4 linked regions of the Homo sapiens genome follow. The protein of the gene in region 4 purifies or fractionates together with the protein of the main gene of each other region. This does not show direct contact. Each region holds a gene or a part of one and is shown on either strand. Other genes may lie near its edges.

Region 1 (4,734 bases), on a different chromosome or scaffold from region 4:
AGATTACCCTTAACAGATATTTCTCTAACCCAGTGACAGGGACCTCTGCATCAGAATCACTTAGAATGCTCATTAAAAATATGACTCCAGGCTGGGCGCGGTAGCTCATGCCTGTAATCCCAGCACTTTGGGAGGCCAAGGCAGGCAGATCACTTGAGGTCAGGAGCTTGAGACTCACCTGGCCAACATGGTAAAATACTGTCTCTATTAAAAATACAAAAATTAGCCGGGCATGGTGGTCCACACCTGTGATTCCAGCTACTCAGGAGGCTGAGGTATGAGAATCGCTTGAACCCAGGAAGCGGAGGTTGCAGTGAGCCGAGATCACGCCGCTGTACTCCAGCTTGGGTGACAAAGTGACACTCTGTCTCAAAAGAAAAAAAGAAGAAAAAGAATCTGGCTTGCCGGGTACAGTGGTGTGCACCTATAGTCCCATCTACTTGGGGGGCTGAAGTGGGAGGATCACTTGAACCCAGGAGAGTGAGTCCAGCTTGAGCAACGTAGCAAGACTCTCATCTCAAAAAATAAAATAAAATAAAATAAAATAAAATATATATATATTTATTTATTTGGGAGGCCGAGGCAGGTGGATCACCTGAGGTCAGGAGTTCGAGATCAGCCTGGCCAACATGGTAAAACCCCGTCTCTACTAAAAACACAAATTATATATATATACATATATATGTGTATATATATACATATATATGTGTATATATATACATATATATATGTATATATATATGTATATATATACACACATATATCTGGAACCTCCCACCCAGGAAGTGTAAGCACACCCAAGGTATGAGCAGATTAAAGAAATCCTGCAGAAGGGGGAACACATGCATAGAGTATGCTGGCAAGGTCACATATAGAAAATGGGTGGGGGGACTTGAAAGCAGAGGTATAAATCCTATGTGCACCTTATTTGCTCAAGTCTACATGGACCAGCATCCAAACATTGAAATTTTCCTTTCAAATTCAATCCCCCAGAGTGTATGGTCTCAGGACCCTTCTTTCCCCCAAATCTTTTCTAGTGGGGATGCATGTATGCAGACAATGCAAAGTGCTACAAATCGCAACACCAAATGCATCAAGAGGTAGATTATTAGTATGAGTCAGTTTCACACTAACTTTACCAAAAACCTCACTGCTCACATTAGCTCAAGTAATCTACTTACAACCACAATTATAAATTCTGAGCTTCCTTGGCTGACGAGTTTGCAGTAGGTGGTTCTTGGCCCTGAGGGCTGCTGAGATGCCCGCCGTTATGAGATGCCCACTGAGAAAACCACCGCCCTCTCCCAGCAGGGTCCAGCAGGAGCAGTGTCTGCTCTCGGCTACACAACTCCATTCATAGACTTTTCCAGTTACGTTTGAGGTTCACCCAAAGGAGGTAGTAAAAACAGGAGGTGGGCACTGAAGCTGGCCTGGTATGTTTGAATTCCAGCTCTGCTTTTTATCAGCCTCCAGGTTTTCTCAGTTTCCTCATCTGTAAAACGGGAATAATATTACCTGCCTCACAGAGTTACCATGAAAGTAAGAAATAAAATATTCAAAGTATATGACATGGCTGGGCGCAGTGGCTCACGCCTGTAATCCCAGCACTTTGGGAGGCCGAGGCAGGTGGATCGCCTGAGGTCAGGAGTTCGAGACCAGCCTGCCCAACATGGTGAAACCCTGTCGCTACTAAAAATACAACATTAGCTGGGCGTGGTGGCACAGGCCTATAATCCCAGCTACTTTGGAGGCTAAGGCAGGAGAATTGCTTGAACCTGGGAGACGGAGGTTGCGCTGAGCCGAGATTGCACCATTGCACTCCAGCCTGGGCAACAAGAGCGAAACTCCATCTCCAAAAACAGCAACAACAACAAAGTACAGGACACTTGCTCCATGCTCCATAAAAGAAAGTTAATATTGCCATAAAGGAGACCAAAAAAATCACAGAAACCCACGACGTGATCCTGATGGGAGCCCTGTTAAGAGGGGCTTCCAGGCCAGGCATGGTGGCTCACGCCTGTAATCCCAGCACTTTAGGAGGCCGAGGCGGCCAGATCATCTGAGGTCAGGTGTTCAAGACTGGCCTGTCCAACATGGTGAAACTCCATCTCTACTAAAAGTACAAAAATTAGCCAGGTATGGTTGCGGGCGCCTGTAGTCCCAGCTACTCGGGAGGCTGAGGCAGGAGAATTGCTTGAACCCGGGAGGTGGAGGTTGCAGTGAGCCGAGATCGTGCCACTGCACTCCAGCCTGGGTGACAGAGCGAGACTCTGTCTCTAAATAAATAAATAAATAGAGGGGCTTTCTGCCAGGTCCATAGCTGCCTGCACACATAGTCCAGAAATGTGACCTCACTCCCTAGCTCCTGCTCCACTCGCCACCATCAACCTGCTGGCCTGTCATTCATGGTGTCTGGTGACTCTCCCTGCCATCCCATTCCAAACCCCTCAGAAAAGCTTATCCAATTCCTGAGTGAAAAGAATGGGCCTAGAAGGGCTGAGTTTAAGTTAACCCAAAGAAATAAACCCAAACTCCTTCATTCTCCAAGCTGTTCAGGCCTCAGGGACATGTGTGGGGTGACTGTGGGGCACACACTATCATTCCCCATGTGGATCCATCACGGGGCCTAGCACACAGGAGGTGCACACTCAGTGACTGTTCTGTTGTTGAATGGCAGGATGAATCTCACTCCTCCCTCAAGACCTGAAAACTTGAGAGTTATGAAGGCATGTTTAGGAATGACTGTAAAATACCACTTTTCAGAAAACACAGAAATCTCCATTTGATTCTTTCATTTGCAAGCCTGTTTGATCTGTCTACACACTGGTTGGTCTCTCGTGTCCCAGAAGCAGAGGGCAAGACACAAAACCAGAGTTCAGGGGAGCAAAGCAGACATTTTAGGAAGTTATTGCCCAAGTTTCACTTCCACGTCGTCTTCTGCATTCTACTTCAACTCTGGTTTTGAGCAAAGCTGGGGCTGGTGAAGAAACTTCCCTTAGTCTACATGTTCCTCTCCCTGAGTCCCAGCACTGAGGCTCTGTAGACCAGGGACTCAAATTACTGAGCACTCACTGATGCTAGACCCTATGTCAGGCATATTCAGACATCTTCTGACCTAAGAGCCACAACAAGCTGGAAAACAGACACTGAGATGCCAAGAGAGGTTATGCAATGTGCAAAAGACTTCACAGTCAGGGAGTCGGGTCTGAATCAAAGATCTCCTTGGCTCCAAGGTCCTTGCTTCTCAACCTGCCACTGTCCTTTTTCAAAGGCGCCAACCACTAACATGGCAAAGTGTTTCATTTTTCATAAAGCCATCTGAGGAGTTCAAAAGCATCTTTTTTTTTTTTTTTGAGACAGAGTTTCCCTCTTGTCACCCAGGCTGGAGTGCAATGGCACAATTTTGGCTCATTGCAACCTCTGCCTCCCAGGTTCAAGCAATTCTCCTGCCTCAGCCTCCCGAGTAGCTGGGATTACAGGTGCCAGCCAACACGCCCAGCTAATTTTTGTATTTTTAGTAGAAACAGGGTTTCACCATGTTGGCCAGGCTGGTCTTGAACTCCTGACCTCAGGTGATCCACCCGCCTCGGCCTTCCAAAGTGCTGGGATTACAGGTGTGAGCCACTGCGCCCGGCCCAAAAGCATCATGAAAAACTGTCCCCCTGCATTAAATTCAGATCCCATCTCTGCCAGAAGGATAGCCCTGGACAAATCATACAGCTCTCACCCACCTGTGACTATGCCCCATGGGAGAAGGACGTGTATATGGAGGCTTTCTGCTAGACTATGCTAGATGCTTTGATACACATTATCCCACTCAATCCTCCAAACATTCCAGGGAAGCAGGTGATAGTAGCCCAGCTTCATCAATGACAATTCTGGTTCTGCAGTGGGATGTGATTTGCCCAAGGTCATGCAGCGCTGAGAAGCAGGCCCAGGGCTCCATCAGCCCTGCCATGCAATAGGCTTTGTTGAGTGAGCACTGGATGTAAATTCCAAAGAGCTTAAAGCGGCCAGACAGAGCCAGTGACAGGAGACTCTATTAGGCAGATGAGGAAAGAATGGAGCTTTTCTTCCTCCTACCGCCCAAGCCTTTCCCATCCTTAACTCCTCTGCACAACGGGGCCCTCACTGTCCTTCCCCCACCTTCTTATCAAAGGATGCTGGTGCTGGGAGGGGGAAAAGACAGAAAGAGGATTAGTCTCTGGCATGGTTTATGTTGATTTCAAAGCTGTCACTTTTCCCACATTGGGCCTTCTTTTTCACTGTGGATTTAAGTGCCTAGTCCCCTGATGAACGAAGGTCAAGGGCAGAGGTACATTTTGAACTAGAGAAAGTCCTCAGCATCCTCCTGCTCTCACAGCCTTACTGCTAAACACAGCAGTGGATGCAGAGGGTGGCACTGTGGAGCGGTGAGCAAAAACCAGGCTCAGGAGCCAGAGGCCTAGGTTCCAGTCCTGACTGTGCCTCTTGGTCAAGATGCTTCCCCCCAGGAGGTCCCAGTTCCCTTGTGTGTTAAAATTAGAGTACTGGATGCTTAGGCCTGAAACTCTGAGTATGGGGTTTCTGCTCAGTCCTTCAGCTCACACTGCCTCTCCTCCCCCGCTCCCTGAAGGCAGCCCCATCTCAATGGCTCACAGCATCTAGGCCCTCCTGGGCTTATTCAGCACCTGCTGGCAGACAGAGGTGGTCTCTCTCCCACCCCTTCCTGCTCCCACTGTCACCTGTCCTGAG
Region 2 (4,734 bases), on a different chromosome or scaffold from region 4:
GCTTTCAGACCTCCTTCACGGTGGTTCTTTTGGCGCCACAGGCTCGTGTGTCCAGGGGGCACCGAGCTGCGCGCTTTCGGCGAGCGGCTAGCCCCGGCTCACCGCAACCAGCCACCGTGAATCTGAGGATCCGATATCGGCCCTGGACCCTCAGATCCGTGGTTTCGGTGAATTACCGAGCTGGCATTGCCGAAATTCTCATTGCAGTATCAGTGTGTTTTGAAAGGAAAGGTTACAGCACTAAAGGCGCCGTGTCTACACTGAGGAAGCAAGTCTTGGACAGTAAGTGCGCCTTCTTCGGAGCCCTCTGCATAGCAGAGCCCGGTGGGGGCGCGGTGCCAAAGGCCGGCTTCATTTGAGCGGGGTAACTGCCTTCCCTGCCGGCCACTCTTCATTTCCGGAGCAGTTTTAATAGTGTATGTCCAGTTGTAGAGGTCAAAAACTCGAGTTTGTGAAACTGCTTCCCCGGGTCTTTCGGCTTGTAGTCGCTACAAAGTCATTGATATATTTTAGGCGTGCCACGTTACCTGTTTTGAAAGGAGGAGAAAAATATATGAACCACGAAAACTGAATTCAGAGATGAAGGCAATGAAGTGTGTGTTCAACATCCGAGATAGCAATATTCTCGTTATTCTTGTAGAAAGAGCGTCAGCCTGTGGTGACATTTTGTATTGCTTAAAAAAAGAATGCTTTTCTGGATTATTTACAAGGAGATGGGGCGCTGCAGTTAACTCTTTCTTCACTTGGGTCATCTGTATGAACCCCTCTATGGGATTTTTCATAACTACTCACTGATCTCACTGATATAAGATTCATTCTAAGACATAAGCACACATAAAGCTTTCTTCAGTGGGATATTATGTTTGAAACATATCAATTGATCTCAACAGGACTTGGGAAAGCATCAACTCAAATAATGTCCTTTCAAAGACTATTGATGTAGGACTATTGAAATTGATTAATTTAAAAACTAAAAACTGTTTAACAGCCAATATATATATATTTTTTCCTTAAGGATTTATTTAATCCAATAGCAATTTACAATTTAATGGAGCATTATTTGCAGTAAATTGCTTTTCTAGGCTTTCTTCAGGACATCTACCTTCAGGCACTTGAGCAAGTCATTTAACCTTTTTGAGCTTCAGTTTTCTCATACAAAATAAAAAGACAGACTAGAGGCCTACTCTCTGAAATGTCTCCCAGCTCAAAAACTCTTTGTTTCTGAAGTCTTAAGGTAAAAAACCAATTTAGGCAGGCAGAGTCATTTTTCAACACTATTTTTCTAAGGATCTCAGTCTAGACAAAATTCATATAAATTGTATTATTAGAAAAGTATCAGTAGACCCCAATTTCTAATTTCCTTTTTTTTTCTACCTTTAAAAATTCATGATAACATCTATGCTTACTCTTTCCAGCCTTAGTAGGGAAAAAAAAAAGCGTGAAGGAGAGAAATTAGCCTTCCACTCTCCTGGGAAAAGAGGACCCAAAAGTAAGAAAGGATAGTAGGCCTCAGAAAGCCCTGCTAGTGTAACTCATCTCTCCTGCAAACCTGTTCCTATATAAACTGCATACATAGTACCTAGAATGAGATGTAAATTATGGTTTATGCTTAAATATTCATATGACAAAGCCTCATATTGTACATCCTAAAGTTGCTCAAAAAGTTGATTTGCAACATGGTTGTAAATGCAAGACAGAAGGAAATAGAAAATACTAATATTTTTCTATTGTTTTAAAACTTGTAGAAATCCAAAATATCTTGTCTTACCAGATTCCAAACCTTTTCTGACTTTGTAAAAAATTCAAACTAGCTTATCTTTTTTAATAGACATTCAGATGAAAATGCATGTCTACCATTGACTTATCAAAAAGAAGAAAATTAATTAAATAGTCTTGTGTTATTAGAAAAATTGTATATTGTAGTCAGTATTCATGTGTTCAGTTTCTAACTATGTCATGTAAGAATGTTGTGACCTTGGGAAAATTATTTTTCTGCTCTTTTTTATTTCCCATCTGTGAATTTCTTTCTGTGCAATGTGTGGTTCTGATTGTGTTGAGATTAGTAATTCCCTTGCTCAGCATTTCAAATTTTTTAAGTAAAACGTGCTATATTAATTAAGGCTTTTATTATATTGTTAATAGAATAACATTCTTTAATTTATTCCACTTAATTATCACTTTTATCATTTTATTAAAATAATGGAAAGATGTTTCTTTTTTTTTTTCTCTTTTTTCTTTTTCTCCGTCAAATTTTCATGCCACTAACCGTGGGCCTTTGTAAAACTTAGTACCACCTAAGTTGTCAATATTACTTGGTGTAAGATGGCAGCAGTTTGTCAGATAGTATTTTAAATGCTTTATAATCACCATGTTTTACAATTCCAAACACACTTCTTTCTGTTCTGGCCATTTATTTAGCATAAAACACCATCAAAGAGTTCTAGCTCCCTGAAGGTATTCACTCAAGTAGACACATGCAATTTATAGCCCAGATATGCAGAAGATCCACTTAGGTATAGCTATGATAGAAGAATATGTCTCTGTCTCAATGTATACATAGAAACTTAAATGCAATTTCTCACAATGTGTTAATTTTATTCTTCATTGTTAAGTATTCACAGAGGCTAATCTCATTTCTTACACATTATGTGTGTGACACATGTATGTGACATATGAAGAATGAACTAACTTACTGGAATACTAAAGAATGGTTTCTTGGGTGTGGTGGGTGATAACATTTATTTGGTTATTACTTTTGGATTTCAACTCAGTTTATTTTCAATAAGAAATGGAAAAAAATCCATTTATACTTTTGATTACTTTTTTTATTAGGGTAGAATTTTCCTTTCCTTGTGGAGAGTAAATTCAAGACTAAAATAGATATTCTATATTCAGGAAGAGAATATTGCAGGCTGTTTGGTAAGGTTAAATCTAAATCCTACAATTATTATAGTGTCCCTATAGTACGTAAGTCATTACCATATTTTTGGAGTTACTGATATTTTCATGCAGCTAATTTCTCTGCTTAAATAATAAATTTTACATTCTCTTTTCTCCCTTATTATTGAATAGAATACCTTATATATTTCAGATAGGCCTAGTTCCAAATGTGGTATGGTATTCAGTAATTGTTTTATGCTAACCTATTATCATAGCCCATTACTGTAGTCTATGTTCCAAGAATGAAATTAGCTTTTAATGCTTCCTCTCTTATTTATCCAGTCAGTTCTCAATTATCCATTCCATTGAAGGGGAAATCAGAGTTGCGCACAATCCAAAACATCTTCTAACCAAAGGATTACTTAATTTGACTTTGAGTTGAGGTACTTCAATGAACATGTCTATACTTGTCTGGTCTAAGAATTCATAGTACTTCAACACAATGAAACTAAACTGCTGGGGAATAGGTTAATCAGAAATTAGACAGCTGTCCAGCTTCTCTGATTTGCTTCTCTATTACTGTTATTATTGTTTTAGCTCTTTTCTGTATCACTTAAGGAACTGATGCAAAATCTTGGCCCAAGTAAGACTAAAAACATCTATGAGATGAAACTAAACCTTTGCAATCTTCTCAAATCCTATAAATATTATAGACCCTTGATGTTCATTCACAGGAAAACATACTATGACCATGGCAATTGCTGTAGTCTTCTGGCCTTTGCTCAATGACACTTCCACTATGAATAATTTGTTTAGCTCTGCAAAATCACATTTCAAGTTTTAGAAAAATTTTACCCTCACCTGGCCCTTTTTCTTAAGCAAGTTTTTTATTACATCATATGAGTTTCCATGAATAAATGAATAATAAAGCAATACCCTTTTCATGTTATGAGTTGGGTTAGCAGCCAGGTAGGTTGACTCTCCAGTAGGATTTTCACACACCTGCTTTTAGAAAAAAAAATTACTACTTATAATGGATTATGGGGTTACAGTAAACAGTGAAAACCAGTAATATCAAATCCATAAATGTTAGGAAGATTGGAACTTGTAATTAAAAAAGACTTTATTTTTGATTATTTTAACTTATTATGATGATTTCACTAGAGAAGTTAACTGAATTTGTAGATTAAGATATCAACCAGCACTCCAACACAATGTTTTCTTGAGGGAGATAAATCTCAAAGATACTTTCACCTTAGAAATTGATATAAGTAGATTTTTATCCTCTCCATCTGTATAGTTTTAGAGAGAGTCTAGATTACCTTATTTGAACTGTGAATGAAGAAAAAAAAACTTTCCTGTACTTACTTGCCTTTGGTGCAAAATCAACATTGGAATGTTGATAATGACTAAAGTGAGTCTTAACTTTTCCCTTTTCCTTTTCCCTGTACTTGTCTTTGCTGTAGTTTTTACCACATTGTATTATGATATTGGTGACTTTTTTCAGTTGAACATAAATTTTTTGAATACCAAATATCATCTTTGTCTATGTATCCTCAAGTCTAGTTAAGAGCTTGACACCTAGAAGCTGCTTCACATTTTTTCTTTGCATTAAATACAGTAGAAGCAATGCATATGTGGAGAATTAAACTCCATATGGCAGCACCTGACATTCATGCATTACTAAGAAATTTTCTCAAGGAGTTTGGGAGTTGAGGATATAATATTCCTCACTGAGAATTGAACTGGAAAATAAAACCATCATGAAAGAACAGAGTGGGACAGGCTATCAAGACCTGATGGCACTTTAGTAGTATTAATGAAAAACAAAAAGAAAAGAACATGTATATTCGT
Region 3 (4,357 bases), on a different chromosome or scaffold from region 4:
TCTTTTGGTGCTGTATTACTGGAACCAGATCCTCAAAGATCTAATTCCCCCCCAAATACTGTAATACATAGTAATACCTTCCACTTCTCTGGGGACTTTTCTCTGTCTCAAAACCTTGATGTTTATAGGCAACGTCTATATAGATTTGTGCAAACATTTGGGTTTAGATAAAAGACTGAAAGACTATATACCAAGATGGTAACAGTGGTTATCTTTAAAAAGGAAAATTATGAGTAATTGTTTTTTTAGTAGGATAAACTTTTCTAATTTCTCTGCTACACTCAAGTTACTGGTAATTTTTAATACTATTTATGAAATTTTTACATGTGTTTTATCTTATCCTGACATTAAGTTACAGTATGAGAAGAGGGATTATATTCCATGTGATTCATAAAGGAGTAGCTTACCTAACATCACAAAATAATTTACAGGCAGCATCACCAACATATGCTAGTCTCTCAAGTTCTCTCTTCTAGAAGTATTAAAGAGTTTACAAGAGGTATGTTTATGAACAAGTTAGAGGTTAAGATGAAAGGGGAAAATACTTTTGGGGGTAGGTCACTGGATTAGAAAATGTTTTTAGAAGTCACCTATTTTAAATAAAAATTAAGACAGCTATATATATACTGGGGTCACTGATGAAAAATGATAATTTTTTCTTCATTGATGTAAAGAGAAAATAAATAAGCAATTAAAACTTACCTTTCCCAATATTTGTGATTTAGATCCAAAAAGTCATCTAATTTTGCTATCTCCTTGAGGTACTGAGTTAATTTTAAAAGTTCTTTGTCTTTATCACGATTTAGGTGCGCTTTCATAAAAGGCCTTATCTATTAGGAAACAAACATTACTCAACACATCACAATGTGATAAGGAAAACTAACAAATCTATACTATCATTTCAATTAGAGTTAATGAGGTTAAAATATCACCAAGAACATAAATACTAAAAATTACTTTTATATTAGCCTAAATAGAAAGTCATGTATAATGTTTACAAATTACAAACTCTTCTACCTATTTTACCTAACATTATCTTTTCAATCTGAACCTGACAACACCAGCTTTCTTATTGCACTTGAATCCATACACAGCTACTCTACTTTGCAAAACTACTTAGCCTTTCCCGCCTCCTATCATTCTAGTTGCTTCTAATTAATTTCATTCACATTATTTTATTCATAAAAATTTAACCCCAATACCAGCTTGATCTAACAGTACAGTGAGATAAATTTTAACGATGATTTTTATTTTATTTTTCTATTAAATTTTTATATAGCTGAGATATCATTATACATTTATATAACCTGTTTCCTCCTACATTTTATCATAAGCATTTTTCTTTATCATTAAATTCTCTGTTAAAATCATTTTTAATTATGCAAGAGTTTTCCATAAAAAGAACTGCCATATTTTCCAAATGTTTAAGGCTGATCTATTTTATGATGAAAAAGAGTTTAAAAAGCATTATTTCAAACCACACATGTCAGAATAATAGACCGAGGTAGGGGACTGCAATTAGTAAGGAATACCATATCTTGACTTGAGTGGCGGTGCTATGAATGCATATGTTTATATGCAATCTTCATCTAGATTTGTGCATAAATCTATGCTTAAAAAGACTAGAGGACTATAAATCAAGATGGTAATAGTGTTTATCTTTGGAAAGGAAAATCATGAGTAATTTTAGTGGAATAAAATTTTTTACAAGAATTATCTTTACAGTTTGTTGAACTATAAATTTATGCACTTTTCCTTATTTTATAGCTTCAGTAAAGAATTCTGCTGTTTTGTAAAAGACACCTGCTCAAATATCTTTATACAACTCAAGATAGTCTTTCAATAATTTTAAATTAATTTTAGATAATATGATATGACTAAGATTTACTTCAAAATATTAAGGAGAGGGAAGTAGCGTATAGAGCAAACAATAACCATCCATGAATTAATAAGCTAATTTAAACTGAATGATATCTACATGGGGGTTTAAGCAATTTTATATAGTTCTGTTTACATTTGAATTTTTCTGTTATCGTTAAAAAAAAATCATACATATTCCTAAAGCACACATATTCCTAAAGCACACATGTAAGGACTGATTTCATCATACTTAGCAAAGTATTAGTATATTCTTTTGATTTGGAGAAAATGCAAATTGGTCATTAGTTTTTTTTTTTTTTGGTCATTAGTTATTAATTTTACACAGTTAACACTGAAAAATGAATGATATTTAATCATTGTCACTTACTGAGAAGCAAGAACAATGAGTGAGCCCAAAGGAGTCTACTACCATACCTATTAAGTGTAGGGAAGGGTTTAAGTATTTTTTACATACTTTTCTTCTGTCATTGGAAAAACACCACCCATCTGAAATGGACAGAAGAAAATTTTCCCAGGTGTTCTACTCTCATCAGAACAGCTTGGTGCCAGTGACCTCCACACTGTTAGCTGGCTCCCATACTGCTTGAAGGGCACCAGTCAAGAGCTGTCAAAGGGAGTCTCCTCAGAAATCAGCATTTGTGGGAGATCCCACTTCCAAAAAGGTAGTGCAGCAGTGCTGTTTCCGAGCAGCAGTGAATGTGGGGGCTGAAGACGACGCTTTACAGGGCCTTGCTTAGGCCCTGGGGATGGGAGTAAACAGAGTCATGATATGAGGATGTAGTGAAATGAGTTTCTGCATAATCCTGGGTGATATGGTAATGTTTTAAAGTATTCCTTCATTCACTTCCTAAGGACTGAAAGGTAACAAATTAACTTTTAAGCAATTAATATATAATGTACCAAAGTGTCCAAATTTAAACAGCAGGAAATTACAGGGTTGGTGGGTAGTAAATAAGATTTTCAACCCAAGGCTCTGCTAAGTTATTTTTACTTTCCAAACATTTGCTCTTAAGCACTATTAAACAACAAAACTAAAATATTCTAATGATTCTGGTTCTAAAATTTTAAATAAACAAATTAAGGGTGAAAATCTATGCACCTAATTGACTTCACTTGCTCCAGTATAACCACTGTTTACTGTACATTTTTAAAAACTGATCTAAGTGATCACTAAAAGGACAGGAAACCATCATCTTGTCTCAGGTCAAGGAAGCATTTTTAGAAACTTAAGACTGTCTAGATAAGCTGAATTCTCCTATATCATAATTTCCTTGTACAGACAATAAAAATGGAGTTTTCAGCCGATAAACTGCTTTATCCATGACCAAGATTCACATTCTTTTAGTGTAATTCTAAATTCATATTCACAGTACCTTCCATGTACTTCAAACCTTATGACTGACAAGCTTATGTTTAATAGAAGTTAACTATTTTAAAAATGAGCAGTCTTATTTTTAAGATCTACATGAAATCTTTGAGATTTCTACCAAGTGCATTATGAAAGCATGATAACAAAACACAGCATTTGAGGATATTTCTCCATTTTAGAACTCTTTCTGGGCTGGGCGCAGTGGCTCATGCCTGTAATCCTGCACTTTGAGAGGCCGAGATAGGTGGATCGCTTGAGTGCAGGACCTCGAGACCAGCCTAGGCAACATGGCGAAACCTTGTCTCTACCAAAAATACAAAAATTAGCCAGGTGTGGTAACGTGCGCCTGTAGTCCCAGTTACTTGGGAGGCTGACATGTGAGGATCACTGGAGCAAGGGAAGTCGAGGCTGCAATGAGCTCTGATCATGCCACTGCACTCCAGCCTGGGTGACAGAGCAAGACCCTGTCAGAAAACCCCACCTGTTTCTATGCCGACGTGGGCAGATCTTTAATCTTAATCTTAACCTTTAATCTTTAACCTTAAAAGAGGTTTTCATGAAGTGTTATCTTGGGTAGATTAATTTTATAAAAAAGAGGTTTTCAATAAAAGACACACAAGGACAGCCTGTGGAGTGTCTAAATCTACCTCTGGAATTAGAATTTAGGGGATGGGGACATACGTATTTTTAGGAATTCCTTCAGTGGGTCTACTGAGTACAGTCTTTTAAAAACCCTACTGTAAAGTAACATAAAGAACTAGACATTTACAATAACATCTCTCCCTGCATCAAGAGATGAATGGAGCTCAAATGTTGGTTAGGAAAACAAAGTTTCTTTTAAACAAACATGAAACTAATGATTGTATTTTTTTTTTTAAAGTTAAACGTCTCCTCCAAAATTATTCCTTGACCATCATGGGATCACCTCCTTGCAAGAACAGGTAATAACCATTCGTTTCACAAACAATTAGGTTTACATCAACCACATTTCTTCTCAAGACTCAAGAATACATTTTTGTACCTTTACCTGGTGCAGTACATATTAAGAAAAGCACTTCTCTCCAAGCCTTAAACAGAAACCATTAAGGACAACATAACCACTTTTCT
Region 4 (5,119 bases):
AAATGAACCTTAAGCCTTAGAACAAAGTCATGCAGATGCCCCATTTGATAATAATCTTATTCACCTGTGCTCTGGTCCTCGGTTTCTGCATGTGTTAGCATTGCATTGATAACTCAGAATCTTGATAAACACTTAATATTTGGGCCTGAAGCATTAAACTTTCTTTTTATTGTATATACTTAAAAAATAGAACTCACTGCCCTATCATACATTGTAGCCCTCTTATTCTTTGGTCTTTCATATGCATTAGTTAAATCCCTTAAAGTAGACATTCATAAAAACTTACATTGTTTATTGGAGTATAAAATATTACCCAAGTTTCTTCATGAGTTGACATGAGCTGTTTTAAATACTGGTGTATTTTCAGAACAGTAAAATTACTGAATATCAGAAAAAATGTTAATTGATGATGAAGCTTATTCCCAAAATGCCTTTTGTGCATATGATACTTGGAAAGTCACTAATGTGCCTCAGTTAATACATCAGTAAAATGTTGTGTTTCTTTTCCAGTGTAGTGTTTTTGGAATATAAATTCCCCATGCTAGTATAGTATCTCAGCAAAGAGAATTTCCCCCCAGGAGGCTCAGTAAAGGAATACCGTGTCTTACCCATCGTTATGATGGAAGGCTGCTTTGAAAATGGCTGTTTTACCTTATAAGGTTAAAATTTTGATCCATATGTTAAGTGATAGAAGATTTTGGTGCAACAGTAGTAGGATATATTTCTCCTAGAACATCCCTTATTGGCTTACATGATTTTATTGCCTTTTAATAGATATTTTGTCATTTTGGCCAAACAAAAGACACTGAGTAGTTACACTTAAGTTAAAAATGAGGGGAAAATCATTATTTTAGGTGTGGAGCCATTTTTATTATAAAACTTTCTCAAAATAAAAAAACATTGAATCATTTCAATTTTTGCAGTCCCTGTATTAGTATATGAATACATACTTGCCATTTGAATTAATAACATGAAAAGAGTATACTGTGTTTTTAAATCCGTGTTTCTTTGAATTTAAAGGGTGTACAGGTCTTTCTGTAGGGAAAATTATTCCATGTAAACATTTCAACTCTGTATGAAAATGTTAAATATTGTAAGAAAGTTATCCTCTCATTTTTTCACTGCTATGATATATTTATTATAAAATAGGGAATGAATGAATGAATATGGATTGCTGTTAACTAGAAACACTTCTGTATGTCAGTCAGCATTTAATGACCACCTACTGTGTGCACAGCACTACTGGTAAAATTTTGAAGACATTGTTAACATTAAAAAATATTTTAAAGTTGTCTACAAATCTGAGCCTTGTAATGATGTATATTTAAGTTATTTTTGTTTTTATAGATTAAAGTAAGATTAAAATATACTATCCAGTTTTATTACTAAAAAAGACTGGTTTTAATTTTACCAATGTGTGAACTATAAAAGCTTTTTGCCTACAGATTTTACATTTTAAAATTATCTATGGCTGTTTTAAATTGTCTAGCAATTTATATGGTTGTGGTTAACTCATTTAAGAAACAATTATCTTTCTATATTAAGCCATTTTCAAATAGCAAGACAGTGCTTGTCTTTTTTTGTTATTACACTAACTGCAATTCAGTAAGCTGCATGACAAAATATGTATTATGTAAATAAACTGGGTTTACTAAATATTTTTAACTGCTGCTTGTCATTCTTTGTAATACATAACAGCTTTAAAATCATATTTTAGAATCAGGAACGAAGATTCAGGGAATGTCTGTCACATCTTATGGCATCCCACCTGGACAGAATATCCGATTTGAAGATTGTGATTGACTTCCGTAAAACTGTACAACTCTCCATTTGGCAGGTACCTACTAGATAATACTTTGCCCTGTATTAAATGTCAAGGGGCAAAGCCTATTCCTGTGAATTCCTGCTGGTTGCTTTGCTGCATTAGGTCCCTGTCCACTGTAAATCATCATTCCTGGGAATTCTACTTCTGCCCAAGTGTGTAAAGAATCAGCTCACCTATTAGAGAAGGGGTAGAAATACCTTCTGTGTGCATTATCACAATAACTGTGTTTACACTAAAGAGGTGTAAATACAGTCCTCTGAAATTTTGTACCAGAATTCCCAAGTAGTGTAATGAGATAATGATCCAGAACTGAAACTACCCTTAAGAAAACATTTTTGGAAGGGAGAGGTAAATAGCAGTAGGGGGTTTCTTGTGAAAAATTAACCTCCATCCTTAAGAGGGCTGAAATGAACAGCCACCAAGGTTCTAGTCCTGCTCTATAAAATCTGAGATCAAAATACTACCTAACCTGCACATAATCTCAATTGTGACAACCATCTGAACTATCTCATTTAATATGTAACAACAAATACAAGCTCAAGCTTTCAATATGAGAATATTAACTACATGTTACATATGATGCTTGACCTGGGCTTCCTTAAAAAGGTATTCGTTATCCAAAATAAATAGCTCAAATTGCAGCATATATTCATCTCAAGTAACTATAACTGAATTTGAACAGTAATACACTGCAAACTATTCTTTGTTAATAGAACTTTTCTAATCATTTGTGTTATTTTGCTTTGTACCATTCATTTTCATTAAAAAGATACAAAGCCCCTTTTTTTCACATAACTTTAGATAAATGTTACAACTTCAGAAAAAGTTAATTCATAAAAATAGGATGAACCTTTCCACAGGCTACCAAAGACTCCAGTTTTTGGAATAATACATATTATAACCTTGATGCCAAGCTTAGTCCATCAATCCAATAAATAGGTTTTCTCTTTAATGTGTCATAGCCTCTTTTCTGATATAATTGAGGATTACAATGTTATTTAAGCAAATAACCAGTATTAATTCAGCCAAAGATGTTATCAGTTTTAAAGATTTTTAAAAATTTATAATGTGGAAGCTGTAAAATAAGTTATTCAGAAGGCACTACACAATATTGTTTTTGCCTTACTGTCATCACTCGAGTATCAGTAATTATGACTCACTGAAAAAGTCGTGCTATTAAGTGTTCTTGTGGCAAAAACTCTTAAGTCAAATGGGTTTTCTTACCTAAATTGTAAACTCTGAGCTCCTTAAGAATAGGGATCTAATCTTAGCAACTTTTCTATTCCACTAGCTGCTACATAATAGGTGCTTAATGTTTGTGGTGTGAATGAAATAACTGAATTTGAATAGAAGTTTACATCCAAAAGTCATAATAAGACAAATAATGAAAAACTCCAAAGTCACTGATTATAAAGAATATGCAATCCATTTGGGATTTATTGCATTTAAAGAAAACAGATTAAAACAGGTATGATAAATACAGTAAGAAAATAACTTTAAATTTCAAACAAAACAGTGAATCAGGGACAGAATTCAGTCAAAAAGAATAAGCAGTGTAAAGGCAATAAAGTAATAAAATCAGTTAGTGCTTAATTAGATATGGCAGGGGAAAAGGGGTGGGAGGGGGAGACTGAGTCTATCTCATAATTGTTTCCCAGCTATATTTGAGGACTGAAGTTACTTTAGCAAGTATGTTTTGTAACAAGTAGAAATACAATAAAGATGTAAATTTGCTTTATTTAAAGGTTAAAGTTATTTGCTTAGTGGTACATAAAAGGCTTCAGAAAATTCAAGTTTAACAAAAAATGGAAGTGTAATCAAAGAAAGTGCACTTAAAGCTGTTTGCCAGCAATTAAAAAGTAGCTTCTATACAGCTTCTATTAGATGACTTTTCAATCACAAAAAGAGCATAGTCATAAAAACAATTCTTTCAAAAGTAGCAGTATAAATTTTAAAATAAAACAAAAATAACCCCAAATCATGACCCTTTGCATTATCATCTACCTTATTCTCTTAGTAGCTTTTGTAAACCCTCACTAGGAGTGAATGTTCTCTTAGATATGATTGTGGTTGCAATTCCATTTTTTAAAAATTCACATTAACTCCACAGTAGAGAGATGTGACATGCATGTGTGTACATATTTTTATCTTAATATATAAAACACCACTGAGTATAAAAGTTCTCAAATAAACTATTCATCATTTATGGTATTCTCACAGTAGATATGTCATCTCATTCTCACAGTAGACTGTCAACTCAATAATTGGACCTAAAATAACAAGTTTGCTAAAAAGAAAAAAAAATGAGAAAAAAGTTTACTGCACATTCTAAATATATTAAAAACAAATGTACCCAAGCGCCTCAAAACTAGTGATATTAATACACTTGTACCTTCTAACAGTGCTTACGTGAAGTACCAAAACCTAAAATAAACCAAGCAGAGTAGCTGACTTGTAAGAAAACTGCTCTGCCTGGTGAACTTCAGCATAGAAGAGTGGGCTCCACCTTAGATTTTCCACCAGCAAGAGGACAACAGTCTATCACTCTTAAACAATAAACAGGGTAAGACTGAAAGTTGTGTCTATTTGCAAATCCGGATAATGTCGTAACTATACCCAACACGTACACAGGGATTGGGGTAAGGGAAAATAATTACACTCCTGAATAAATGTTCTAGTCAGTTAAATTTTCATCCGGCCTACAACCTTTCCTCCTCCACCTATTATACTTACCATGCAATTTTTGTGTCTTAGCAGATACATTCTTCAATGCCATAAAAAGCTGATCTTTTTAATACTAACATTTTACTGACGTGATATTAAAATAAGCAAATGGTCCACTTTTTAAAGGATTATTCAAAATCAACAAGCATTATTAAAGCTGTTAAGAAACAACTTTGGCCTCAAGATTTTTGCTAGCTTCATAATAATTTACTTCTCTTAGTGATGTTCAAGTATAACAGGTTTAGTTATAACTACATCCTAAAGAAGCACAGGGGACACCCAAATAATATTAGGGAAAAAAAACCCCAAATATATATATATATATATATTTGCTTAGTGGTACATATATAATAACCTTTCTTCCTTCCTTAAACCAGAATTGAACCATCCCATAATAGAGCCAAACTTTTATTGAGTGCTGTGTGCCAGGTACTGTGTTAAGCACTTTCACATATCTTGGGAGCTTTATTCTCATAATTCTCACAAGGGAATAACCTGAGCATCAGCTGTGTGGAGTGACCTACACCTTGACCATGATTCTGGGGGATGATGAATGAAAATGCAAAGTAT

What was found. Proteins that work in one complex are often made in the same cells at the same time.
Region 1: the proteins of PAQR3 (region 4) and CYRIB purify together in Homo sapiens (affinity purification with mass spectrometry; one large-scale study listed by BioGRID and IntAct). This does not show direct contact.
Region 2: the proteins of PAQR3 (region 4) and ALCAM purify together in Homo sapiens (affinity purification with mass spectrometry; one large-scale study listed by BioGRID and IntAct). This does not show direct contact.
Region 3: the proteins of PAQR3 (region 4) and UBLCP1 purify together in Homo sapiens (affinity purification with mass spectrometry; one large-scale study listed by BioGRID and IntAct). This does not show direct contact.

What each region holds. Positions count from the first base shown.
Region 1 is NC_000008.11:130,005,932-130,010,665, forward strand, and holds part of CYRIB (CYFIP-related Rac1 interactor B), read right to left. Parts: exon of another isoform or gene 4,725-4,734; intron 2,523-4,724; exon of another isoform or gene 2,403-2,522; intron 1-2,402. UniProt on the Homo sapiens protein: Negatively regulates RAC1 signaling and RAC1-driven cytoskeletal remodeling. Regulates chemotaxis, cell migration and epithelial polarization by controlling the polarity, plasticity, duration and extent of protrusions.
Region 2 is NC_000003.12:105,369,304-105,374,037, forward strand, and holds part of ALCAM (CD166 antigen isoform 1 precursor), read left to right. Parts: intron 1-4,734. UniProt on the Homo sapiens protein: Cell adhesion molecule that mediates both heterotypic cell-cell contacts via its interaction with CD6, as well as homotypic cell-cell contacts. Promotes T-cell activation and proliferation via its interactions with CD6.
Region 3 is NC_000005.10:159,279,685-159,284,041, reverse strand, and holds part of UBLCP1 (ubiquitin-like domain-containing CTD phosphatase 1), read right to left. Parts: intron 831-4,357; coding exon 703-830; intron 1-702. UniProt on the Homo sapiens protein: Dephosphorylates 26S nuclear proteasomes, thereby decreasing their proteolytic activity. Recruited to the 19S regulatory particle of the 26S proteasome through its interaction with 19S component PSMD2/RPN1.
Region 4 is NC_000004.12:78,914,479-78,919,597, reverse strand, and holds part of PAQR3 (progestin and adipoQ receptor family member 3), read left to right. Parts: 3' UTR 1-1,717; coding exon of another isoform or gene 1,718-1,803; 3' UTR 1,804-5,119. UniProt on the Homo sapiens protein: Golgi-scaffold protein which modulates its interactors acitivies by anchoring them to the Golgi apparatus. Functions as a spatial regulator of RAF1 kinase by sequestrating it to the Golgi apparatus.